Linked DNA regions of Homo sapiens: region 2 is linked to region 1. Evidence: fine-mapped expression QTL. Tissue or cell type: whole blood. Region 1 holds a variant in brackets; the other region holds the start of a gene. All regions are shown on one strand. Distances are between the middles of the regions.

Region 1 (5,896 bases):
CTAGAAAAAGGTAGTGGGAGCTACAAATGGTGACATCCTTTTTGCTCCATGAATTCCTTACTCCACAAGAGAGATGCAGCTGGAGGGGACCAGAGAAGGACCAATTAAAGCTGTGCTGTCCAATATGGTAGCCAGTTGCCACAGGAGGCCATTGAGTACTTCAGACAAGGCTGTCCAATAGAAATGGGCTGTAAGTATAAGATACATACTGGATTTTGAAGACTTAGTATGTGAAAAATATGGCTCAGTAATAATTTTTACATTGATTACTTGTTGAGATAATATTTGAATATATTACATTTAAAATATTTTTAGCATTAATTTCACCTGTCTCTTTTTAATTTTTTTAAAGGGCCGCTAGAAAATCTAAAACTACATAAGTGACCCATGTTTTATTTCTATTTCACAGAGATGCTCTAAAAGTGTGAATCCAAGGGCAGGGGCTTTAGTTGTGCAGCCCTAAAGTTGATAAAGGTGGCCAGTCCCAGAACTAGAGAAGAGAAGACTGGGTTGAAAACAAGAGGTACAGAGATGACTGTGGTAGTGCTGGACTCTGTGTGGTCACCAACCTGCTGATTGCTGTCCTTCCAGATTAAACAGTTATCAAGATTTTGTTGTATTTGTGTCTTATCCAGGATTCATTGATTTGTTTGACAATAGTTAAGATTTTCCCAGATAACACTTGGATGGGTAGTATGGAGGACTGCAAAAATGGCCACGCAGTCTTTCCCTCCCATCAAGAAGTAGAGTCTATTTCTGCACCCTTTGATTCTGGGATGGCCATGCAACTTGCTTTAGCCAATGGGCATTAGTAAACAAGAGGGTGCTTGAAAAGTGCTTGTGTATTGGATCTTGCTATTTCTTGCTGCTGTTGGAGTACTGCTGCCTTGGGATGAAGCATTGATAACCCTAATTAATATCCTTCCTGTAACCACCCCCTTTGCATGTGATTTCCAAGTTTCTCCCACCAAGAGGTAGAGTTGATTCCCCCACTCCTTGAATCTGGGCTGGCTTTATAATTTTCTTGGATCAACAGAATGCAGTAGGAGTGAGTTGCACCCATTCTAAGCTTCTCTTTCTTTTGAACTCTGCCAGCTGTCATGTGAATAAGACTAAACCAGCTTGCTGAAGGATGAAAAACCATGAGGAAGAGACCCAAGTCAGCCCAATTCTCCCCGCTGAAGCCACCTCAGACCAGCCATACCCCAGCCGACCCACTGATTGCAGATTTGTGAATCAGCCCAGCAAAGATCAGCCAAGCTGAGCCCAGAACTGCCAAACTACCCAGCCAATCTGCAAACTTGTGAGCTAAATAAATGCTTTACATAATTAAGTTTGGCGTTGTTTGTTATGCAGCAAGAGCTAACCAACACAGTGATACAGATACAGATAAGATTTGAACTAGGGTCTGTCAGACCTGATTCCAGAGTTGAAGATCTTAACCACAGCACTCTACCATTTACATCCAAATTTTGCTTATACCCAAAGCTTTGAGTTGAAGAAAGTGAGGGGAAGAAAGCCAGACCTAATGATGTGGGAGTCACCACTTCCCCCACTAGCAATAAGAATGGCTGTCTCATGCTGTGCCACCTTCAAAAGGCACACCATCTGAACTTTTGGTTGAAGGATTAAACATTAATAATGAGACTTCTCTGTCCTTGGAGATGACAATTACTCTTTGAGATGCCAACTTCAGTTATCTTCCTCCTTAGGGATTATTAACCTCATTTCTCTGTGTCTATTGTTAGGACCCAGGAAGGAGCTGCTTTGCCTGTTCTGCCTCGATAATTACCCATCATGAGAACTGAGCATCTCTAATGGAAGTCTTCCTAATTTCCAGCATTTATCAAGTGCTTTAGATTTTATATTTGCAAACTTTCCCAAAAACTTCTATTCATCCAACTCATTAGATTGGCTTTTTGGATGAATTTAAAAATTACTTTGATGATATAATCACTATACTTCATTAGCAATTTTCTCCAGGATATTAGAATAGTTTATAGATAGTTATCCAGTTCACCTCACTGCATCCCTGTGAGACTGGTGGGTAGGAGTCTGGGGGAAAGAAAGAAAGCAGTTTTCTGTTTTTTGTTTTTTAATTCTGTCTTGCCAAAAGTGAAACTTACACAGAGAGGTTTTCTATTGCTGCATAATAAAATACCATGAATTTTGAGACTTAACACTACACACACATTTATTCTCTCACAGTTTCTGTAAGTCAAAAGCCTGCATGTGGCTTAGTGGGGTCTGCTTTAGGGGCTCACCAGACTGTACTCCAGGTGTTAGTTAGCCACGGCTGCAGTCTCATCAGAGGCTCAACTGGGGAGAGATCTGCTTCAAGCTCATTCAGTTTGGTAACAGAATTCATCTATTTGTAGCTCTAGGACTGTGATCACCATATCCTTGCTGGCTGCCAGCTGCAGGCCACTTTCAGGTCCCAGAAGCCAGAAACATTCTTTGCCAAGTGGCCCTTTCCATAAGCCCCCTCACCAC[A/G]TGGCAGCTTACTCACTTCTTCCAAGCCAACAAGAGTCATTTTCTCTTCTCTTTCTCTCTCTCTAGTATGTGATAGAGTCTTATATACCTTTGCCATATTCTGTTCCTTAGTAGCAAGCTGAAGTTCCCATGCATTCTCAAGGGGAGGAGAGATCACAAAGGTGTGGACACCAGGAGGCAGGATATCAGTGGGGGTTCCTTTTGTCATAATAAGCAAAGAGCCCAATGTCACACAGCAAGGTAGTAGTGTGGTGCTCTGGCAAGCATACCACAGCACCTTGGACATCTGTGCTCACTGCTCATGATGGTGGCCTTCTGTATCGGGGCCCACATGCATGAACTTACTCATCCCCACTTATGTAGTCAGGCCACCTGGCACACAGCACGCTCACCAACAAGCATTTCCCAGGATCCAAAGTCTCCTGGTCTCCCTTCAGAAGTCCAGATGAAGCTATAGTGGGGTTGAAGAGTGACCCTCCCCACCCACGTAGGCCTCATGCTGAGCCATGGTCACTGAGTCAATAGAAGCAAAACACTGAGAACAGAACTTGGCACCCAGCAAGTGCTCAGTCCCTGTTCACATTTCTACAAGCTCCTGGAAAGGAGCTTGTAAGTCAAAGTTGGACCAGCCTGACATCAAATGCACAGGAGGTATATACAGGCAGTCCTGGAGTCCCCTTGGATGATTTGACTTAGGATTTTTTAACTCTACAATGGTGCAAAAGCTATAACAAGTTCAAAAGAACAGTGATAAATGACATGAGATGTTCAATACTTTATTATAAAATAGGCTTTGTGTTAGATGATTTTACCCAACTGTAGGTCGATGCATGTGTTCTGAGCATGTTTAAGGCAGGCTAGGCTAAGCCATGATGCTCAATAGGTTAGTTGTATTAAGTGCATTTTCAACTTAACAATATTTTCAACTTACGATGGATTTATCAGGACACGACCCCATCACAGGTGAAGGAACATATGTATAGTAAAGGACTGTAACTGTGGGAGTGACTTTTCTTAAATATATTTTTATAAGGCAAAGTATCACTCCTTTATTTTTGTTTCTTTTGCATTTTCTTGTTGGGGCACTCAGGCAAGTACTCATATTATATTACTGAATTCTCACAGTGACTGTTTTAGAAAGTAAATTGTAATTTACAAAGGCTTCCCAGATAACCCATGAGGCTGAGTGCCTTGCAGAGGCCACATGGACTACAGGTGGCTGAGCATAACCCCAAATCTAATCTAGGCTCTGAAACACACAGCTGGCCTGCCTCTTCCTTTCTTCACCTTCCATCATTCAGATTTTGCCTCAGCCCATCACAGTGAATCTTGTTTGCTCAACCAGCTTCATCCATGGCCTGTTCCCTGACCTTCCTTGGTTAACCTCAAAGAATTAGGATTCAAGCTCCCTGTCTCGGTTTGTATCTCTCTCTCTCTCTCTTTCTCTCTCTCTCTCTCTCTCTTTCTCAGTTTGTATCTCTCTCTCTCTTTCTCTCTCTCTCTCTTTCTCACACACACACACACACACACACACACTCAAATACTTTCAAACACGGCCTCTTTGAAAGAAGACAGATCAGCTAGGCTCAGTGGCTCACTCCTGTAGTCCCAGCACTTTGGGAGGCCGAGGCGGGTGGAACACAAGGTCAGAAGTTTGAGACCAGCCTGGCCAATATGGTGAAACCCTGTCTCTACTAAAAATACAAAAATTAGCTGAGCACGGTGGTGTGTGCCTGTAGTTTCAGCTGCTTGGGAGGCTGAGGCAGGAGAATCGCTTGAACCTGGGAGGCAGAGGCTGCAGCGAGCTGAGATCACACCGCTGCACTCCAGCCTGGGCAACAGAGCGAGACTCCGTCTAAAAAAAAAAAAAAACAAACAAACAAAACAAAAAAAACCAGAAAGAAGACAGACCAAAAGAAGAGTCCTCTATCTTGTTTGTTCTATCAAACAGTCTGAACCAAGTAAATGCAGTCATGACCCATTTTCTTTTTCTCTCATCACTGCCCCAGATCTGCTCTGTCTACTCTCCTCTCAAGACCTTTAATGTAATCCAGGCAGGTCCGACACCTTCCCAGGCACCTTGCACAGCTATAGGGCCCAGCCCAGAGCCACGCAGGTTAGAACTTCAGTGTCTACTTAAAGAATAGCCCAGCTCAGGCTTGGCTGGGGACCTGCCCCTGGAAGAGAATGCGTGGAGGATAGGAAAGTCAGCTCTTCCTCATCCTCTGCAATGCCCTAGTGGAGCCACCATATTTAGCTCAGTGGAAGGACCACCCGTGGAAGGGGATGGAACAGCCATATCACACCCCCGACCCCTGGGCTGATGACGTTCCTCAGAAGAATTCCTCCTGCTTCCCAAGGCTTTGGTTCACATGAGCTTGATGGTGTCTGTATTTGTGTGTGTGATGTGGGTGGGGGCTGTTTCACCTGCTCTTAGTAAGTCTGTGGCCCTCTCTTCTCAGTGGGAGACCATCCAGCATCCCCTGTTTTCAGCTTGGTCCTTTGGGCAGCAATTCCAAGGCCACAGAGAAGCCTCAATCCACAGCCTGTACCCATCCCTGGATGCTCTGCTTTACCCAGCTCTCAGCCCCAAAGGAGCAAATCCAGCTTTTTTCTCACAATGTAGGCACTAAACTCAGCGCTGATTACATCTTTCCTTGGAGGAAGCTTGTCTTGCTGTGCAGGAGGCAATTTGCTGCAGGCAAGATAGCAGTGTCCTGCTGCTTGCCTGAAACTGGCCATTTCCAAAAGAAATCCATGGTGGTCCCGGGTGAGGGCGGAGGTGAGAAGAGTCAAGTGGAACAGTAGAGCCTGGGGCTGGCAGCTTTGATCTACGAGGCTGGTGGGTGTTGGAGGTCCAGTGCTGTGCCTGGAAAATCCAGCTCCTGGATGGCCCCCACCCTGCCATGGACCTTCTGGACAGTGTGGTTTTTAAAGCCACCATTTTTTTCCCTCTTAACAAGAGTTGGGCTTGCCAGGTACCCTGACATGTAGCATTTCTTTGAGTCTTGCTGACAGCTCTGCAAGGCAGAAGTCACCTCTCTCATTTTACAGAAAAGGAGACAGAAGCTCAGAGTAACTTTCCCAAAGGCAAACAGAGCAGGTGGTAATGATGAAGCACAGCTGCAGGTATTGTGTACTGCTCAGCAACCTGGAGTTGTGCAGTGCCGAGCTTGAACAACCATATGTGGTGGTCCCGGAAGCATTTTGCACACTTTGTCTTACTGTTCCTTACAGGAGCCCTATGTGGGCAGTGCTACCCATCCCGATAGGTCCAACACCTTCCCAGGCACCTTTGCACATCTACAGGACCCAGCCCAGAGCCATGCAGGTTAGAACTTCAATGTCTACATAAAGAATAGCCCAGGGCCCAGGCGCAGTGGCTCACGCCTGTAATCTCAGC
Region 2 (5,896 bases), 120 kb before region 1:
GTGAGAAGATGCACCAAAAAAATCCAGAACAGCGCCTGTTTTGTAGTTAATGTTCAATAATAATGCTGCTCATTATTTTTAGACTAGAAGACTCTACTTCCTTGCCTCAGTTGCCCCCTTGACCAAATCTGCCTCAGAGCAGGTCCCCTTCTAGGGATCATGTGCCAGGTCAGAGTTGGGTGCTCAGAAGGGACTGGTCATAGGAAGGAAGTGGGATGAGAGAGAGCAAGGGTCACTTTGGGGCAGGAGGACGATGCTGCGCTGGCCCTGGGAGGGGTCCAGCCAGTGTAGCAGGATAAACAGTGAGACACAGGGTGCCGGGGAGGTATCGTGGACCAGGAGTCAGAACATCAGGCACCCCGCCCTGCAGCTGCCTCTCCTGGCCTGTGTGTCCTGGGGTGACTGACATACTGTCTCTGAGCCTCACTTCCCTCACCTGTGAAAGGGGAGGAATTCATCCCTTCTCAGTCACTCACTCTTCCTCAGCCCCTCACTCCCTGCTAGCTGCAGGGTAGGCACATTCCAGCCTCAGGGCCTTTGCATGGGCTGTGCTCTAGCTGTCTACACAGCTCACTCCCTCATCTCCCTCAAGGCTGTAGCTCAAAAGTTACCTCCTCAGGGAGACCTCCCTGACACCCTATTTAAAATGACAACCCGGTCCCTGGCCTCAATACCCCCAACACAACTTTTCCCCTTCACCTCTCAGTACACTATATAATTTGCTTATTGTTTTTATTAGGGAATTGCCTCCCCCTGCCCCCTGCTTTTAAGCATCAGCTCCATGAGGACAAAAATTTTTATTTTGTCCACAGCTGTCTCCCCAGTGCCTGAAACTGTCCCTGGCACTTTGCTCCATAAGCCATTTTTGGTGTAATGCTCACAAACATTTTGTTCAATAAGCAAAAGTAAAGAACAGCCCCAAACTGTGTGACTATGGGGCATTCCTGTTAAATCCAGCCCCCTCCTCCCCCATACCCCAAGAGGGGCAGGCCCTTCTTCCCACAGAGGTGGGGCTATCAAAAGAAATTGGGAGGCTGGGTGTGAGCTGGAGAAGCCACAAGGGGCCTGGAGGCAGAGCTGTGCAGAAAATAGGTCGCAGTCCTAGAACTGGCAGGTCATGACAGCTGGACATGGGTGAAGGGGCTTTCGGCCTTAGCCCTCCACTCCAAATTTGGAAGCACGGAGGAAGTTGACGACATGTGACTGGGAAAGAAGCGGCCATGGCAGGGGCCTCCTGGGATGGTGGGGACAGAGGGGGCCTCAGGAACAAGACGACCCATTTTACAGATGGGACAACAGAAGCCTGGAGAATAGTCTTATTTCCTAACAACCCAACAAGAAAAATCTTTTCTCTCCTTTCTCGAAGTCTGGGGCTGAGGCTAAGGAGCGGACAGTGCCCCCTCCTGGCTCTGCAACAAAACGACCCCCGCGTCCCTGGGATCTGCGGGCCGCAGATCCTGGTCCCCTCTCCACAGGCCGTCAGGGGTGGAGGTCCAAGGGACCACATAGTTGGGGTGGGCAGCCCCGGTGACTTCTCCCCGCAGGCCCGCCCCGTCAAGAAGTTTGTTTGAAAGAAACCAATCAGGAAGTGCAGGGTAGTGGGGCGGTGAGGGGGCCTTGGCCAGCCGCTCTGGGCTTTGGAGGAGCCTGGGGGTTCTTGGCCTCCGCGCTGCTCTTGCCCCAGCCTCCATCTCTCCGGCGGAGAAACCCACTCCCCCCGGGCTCCAGGAAGAGGCGGAAGCCCGAGACTGGGTCAGGGCGAAGGAAGGTAGAGCGAGGGGACCCAAGGCGAGCGCCCCGCCCCGCCCCGCCCAGCGGGGCGCGCCGGGGTGGGCGCGGCGTTCTGGCCCTTCCTCCACACAGCCTCCCCCGGGTAGGTGCGAGTGTTCTGCCCACGGCAGGGGCCCTAACCCACCCAGCGCCCGGCCAGTGGCCCCACACTGTACCCTTCCTGCAGATCGCGCGACTTTGGGGAGAGTGGGGGGCGTCTCCACCTGTGCGTCCCCTACCCACCCCCTAACTGGGCTAAGGCGCGGCCTGGGTTTCTGCCCGCCCCTTTCCAGCCTGGGGACGGGGGACTCTCTCAGCCTCGCCCCTCCCCCTGCAATCTGTCCCTGATGTCCCCGCTCCAGACACTCACCCACTTTCTGAGACCCAGGCCTCAGCGCCGGTGTCCCCCGGCGGTGAGCTCCGAGCCGTTAGGCGGCCCCGGGTTCTCCGGCCCAGGGCCCCTGCCCCCAGGCCCCCACCCCAGAAGGTCGGGCCAGACTTGTGGGCAGCGGGAACTCCGCCACCACCTCCGTCCGCGGCCCTGCGGGGGCAAAGACTGGGGGAACTCGCAAGTTTGCGCCGCGCACTCCTCCTGCCGGGAACAATGGCGGGAGGGGGAGGGGACAGAGAACCGAGCGCGGGGGACCGAGTCAGACCCCGGGGAGACAGAAACTGCTTTCGCTCCGTTTCTCTCCTGCTCTGAAGCAGAAAGCTCGAGCCCGAGAGGCAGTGGCCGAGGACGAAATAAGCAGTCCAGGAGGAGGGCGACCGCGGAGCCGGGGGAGAGGGGAAACCGAGTCAGAGGGAGGGGCGGCGAGGGGAGAGCGCGCAGGGGAGACGGAAGGGGCTGCGGGACGGCGCCTTGGGGAGCTGGGGAGGCGACCCCCTGGGGTCCCAGCGGGCTCAGCGGGTGCCGAGATGTCCCGGGGCGCCCGGTTAGCGCGCGCGGGGTCCCGGCCGCCCCTCTGCGGTCCCGTCGGCCGCAGGAGCCCCGCTGGGTTGCGCTGCGCAGGCGGCGGGCGGCGGGAGGGGAAAGTCCGCGGCTCGGAAGCGGCGGCGGGGAGCAGAACTTACGGGCCTCGCGCGTGCCGGCGCTGGGCTACGTGGAGCTGATGCCAGGCGGAGGCTCCGGGCTCGGACGCCTCACATCGCGCCGCCCGTGCCGGGCCGGGCAGTGCAGGGCAGGGCAGGGCAGGGCAGGGCAGGACAGGGCAGGGCAGGGCAGGGCCGGGCCGGCTGGACTGCGCGCGGCGCCCTGCGCGGCCGGGGCTTACCGAGTCTGGCGGCCCGCGCTGGTCCCTCCTCTCGGTTCCGCGCACAAGCCAATGGCGCGCCGTCCCCTCCCACGCGCCGGGCTGCCTCGCCCCCAGGGTGGCCGCCGGGGCGGGCGGGATGGGGGTTGGCGGGGAAACCAGGCTCCCGGCTCCCCCGCGAGGCTCTCCCGGGGGCCGCCTGCAGGGGGCGCACGCGCGCCCGAGAGAAGGCGCCGGGGGAGGAAGCCGCGCGGGGAGACCCTGGCGTGGCCCGCGCCGCCCAGGATGACTTTCCTGGCAAGTTCTGCAGACGGTGCCCCTTTCTTGGGACGATCAACGTAGATGGGCAAACCACACCATCTTAAATAGCCTTGCGGTGTCTCCCGGGCCCAGGCCGGTGCCTGAAATGGAAGGGACTGCTTTGGCTGGCGGTGATACCCAAGTGTGTAATAACACAGTCACGACAATAGTCACCGTTTGCTGCGCACTCTCTGATGCCAGACACCATATGCTAAAGGAGTTACAAGTATTAACTCATTTGATTTTCACAGCAACCCATAAGGGCGCTGTGCTTAGTCCCATTTTACAGGCCATGGTCGTTAAAGTTTGAGTTCACTCAGCCTTCAGGCTTCCAGCCTAGGCCCACCCTTCTCTCTCCCTGCTTGGTGTGACTTGGCCAAATAACATGACCCCACTGTCACTACGGCCACCTTCTTCATACTCCACCCTAAAATCCAGCCTCAGAGATGCTGCTGTCAGTTGCGCTGTCAGGAGGCTAGGATCTTATCTGGGGCTCTAGGACGCTTGTTGGCGCTACAGTTGTCAAACCTTTTGTCTCTACACATCCTATGGGGGGCTGGGGTGAGGATGAGGGTTGGGGGTCATGGAGGCTCTCTGGTGGCGTGTCAACCTGAGAGAACCAGGCTCCTACAGACAAGGCCCCACCCCCAAATTCTGGGCTCCTTCAACCCCTTATGGTGGGAAAATAATGTGCTCTCTCCCACCCCAACCCCCACCACCCTGTGCTCTCCTTAGAGAAATGCCTGGATCTCTTTCATCTGATCTGATGGTCACAGTGGGCCAGGAACCGGGGTGGGGGGCTGCGGGAAAAGGAAGGCAAGGCTGATGACATGCTCCATTTCACAAGTAAATAAGACAGAAAGAGGTGAGTGGCTGCCTCAGGCATCTAGCTAGGTGGGCATTCTGACTCCAGGTCTCGGTTCTGTCTGCACCAGTTCCTTAACGGTTAATAGAGCAGGCTCTGGAACCAGATCACCTAGGTTCAAATCCTGACTCTGCCTTTTAGTGCCTGTGTGGCCTTGGACAAAGTAAGTCACCTAGAGCAACCAATAGTAAGAACCGGCTATGGTTGCTGTAGAGATTTAGAGTTAATAGGAGCTGCTCATGTTTACTGTGCATGGACTCTGTGCCATGCAGGCTCCCACTGTCCTCACCAGAGCTGGGATTGGGCAGGAGAGTCTGTGCCCTTGGCAAGGAAGTAAACAGAACAGTCCTTGGTTCATAGTAAGTGCTCAGTGAATATAAACTGTCCTGATTACTAAGGTAGATAAACTCTGATGCCCCAGTGCCACTGACACTGCCCCCAGCCAAACACCTAGACAGTGATAGCCAATAATGAATGAATCAATCAATCAATCAAAGTATGTGACTCTAGATGAGGATTATTTTTAAGGTGTGTTGGGTGGAGCCATCTGACTCAAGGCTCTATAGTAATTTCTGCAACAACTCAGTCTCACCTCACTGCCTTTACAGAGCTGGGCCAAGCTGGGTTGATGAATTCATTTGTCACTCCCTCTTCTGCCTTTCTGGCACTCAGGGCTCTGGATTGCTGAAGGGAGGGCCCCCAGCGTCATTCATGTGCAATGTCCTCCCAGACTTGGGGACACCTGCCAGTGCTCTGCTTGGTGTAACCCTAAAGACTAGCAGCAGGGTCTGTGCTTGTAATCCCAGCCAGCCTGATCATACATCAGTGGGAGGCCTTTGTCACAATCACTCCAAGTTTTCCAACATGGAAGAGGCTGCCTTAGTTGTCATGAATGAGTGCCCTGTCACTAGCAGCATGCAAGCAGAATCCAGGGAAGGGTTGATGAGGACAGCAGAGGAAGAATTCCCACCTTAAGTGGTATTTGGAGTGGATAACCTTTGCCCTCTGGGTGTCTGTATTCTCTCAGTCTCCTTATCAACGGGGAAGCTGGGGAGGCTGGGAGCTCAGGCTGGGCCAAGGCTGCCCCACCATCCTTTGTGAACGAGGCCATCCTGACAGTGCCTCACCCTTATGCCAGGCAAGGTGCTATGTGCTGGGGCCCCAGGGGTGAACAGGACAGTGTCCCTGTCCTTGGAGAGTTCACAGCCCCCTTGTAGATGACTGCACAGATAGTCAACAGCAGCAACAGTAACCGCTCAAGATAACAGGCAAAGTGCTTGGAGGGGGACCAGGGGAGAAGCAGCTGGCTCTATCCATAACCCCCTGCATCCGCTCTCCAGAAAGCACCCATTAGAGGCTCTTATTGTCTTCCTCCCTATATACTTTTCATTTATTTATTTACTTATTTATTTATTTTGAGATGGAGTCTCGTTCTGTCGCCCAGGCTGGAGTGCAGTGGCGTGATCTCGGCTCACTGCAAGCTCCGCCTCCTGGGTCCATGCCATTCTCCTGCCTCAGCCTCCCGAGTAGCTGGGACTACAGGCACCCACGACCACACCCGGCTAATTTTTTGTATTTTTAGTAGAGTCGGGGTTTCACCATGTTAGTCAGGATAGTCTCGATCTCCTGACCTCATGATCCGCCCGCCTCGGCCTCCCAAAGTGCGGGGATTACAGGCGTGAGCCACCGCGCCCGGCCCCTATATACT

What was found. PIP is the estimated chance that this variant, and not a neighbour inherited with it, causes the effect.
Region 2: TP53I11 starts here. The variant in region 1 is fine-mapped to the expression of TP53I11 in whole blood (TOPMed, PIP 0.93).

What each region holds. Positions count from the first base shown.
Region 1 is chr11:45,064,424-45,070,319 of GRCh38, forward strand. No RefSeq gene overlaps it. Among named protein-coding and RNA genes, the nearest start is that of PRDM11, 79 kb to the right of the region's middle. The variant A/G (reference allele first, on the strand shown) is at 2,494.
Region 2 is chr11:44,947,833-44,953,728 of GRCh38, forward strand. TP53I11 (tumor protein p53 inducible protein 11) reads right to left here and starts at 3,051. Exons shown (of 7, transcript NM_006034.5): 1 at 2,845-3,051. RefSeq lists silencers at 2,821-2,950, 2,981-3,240.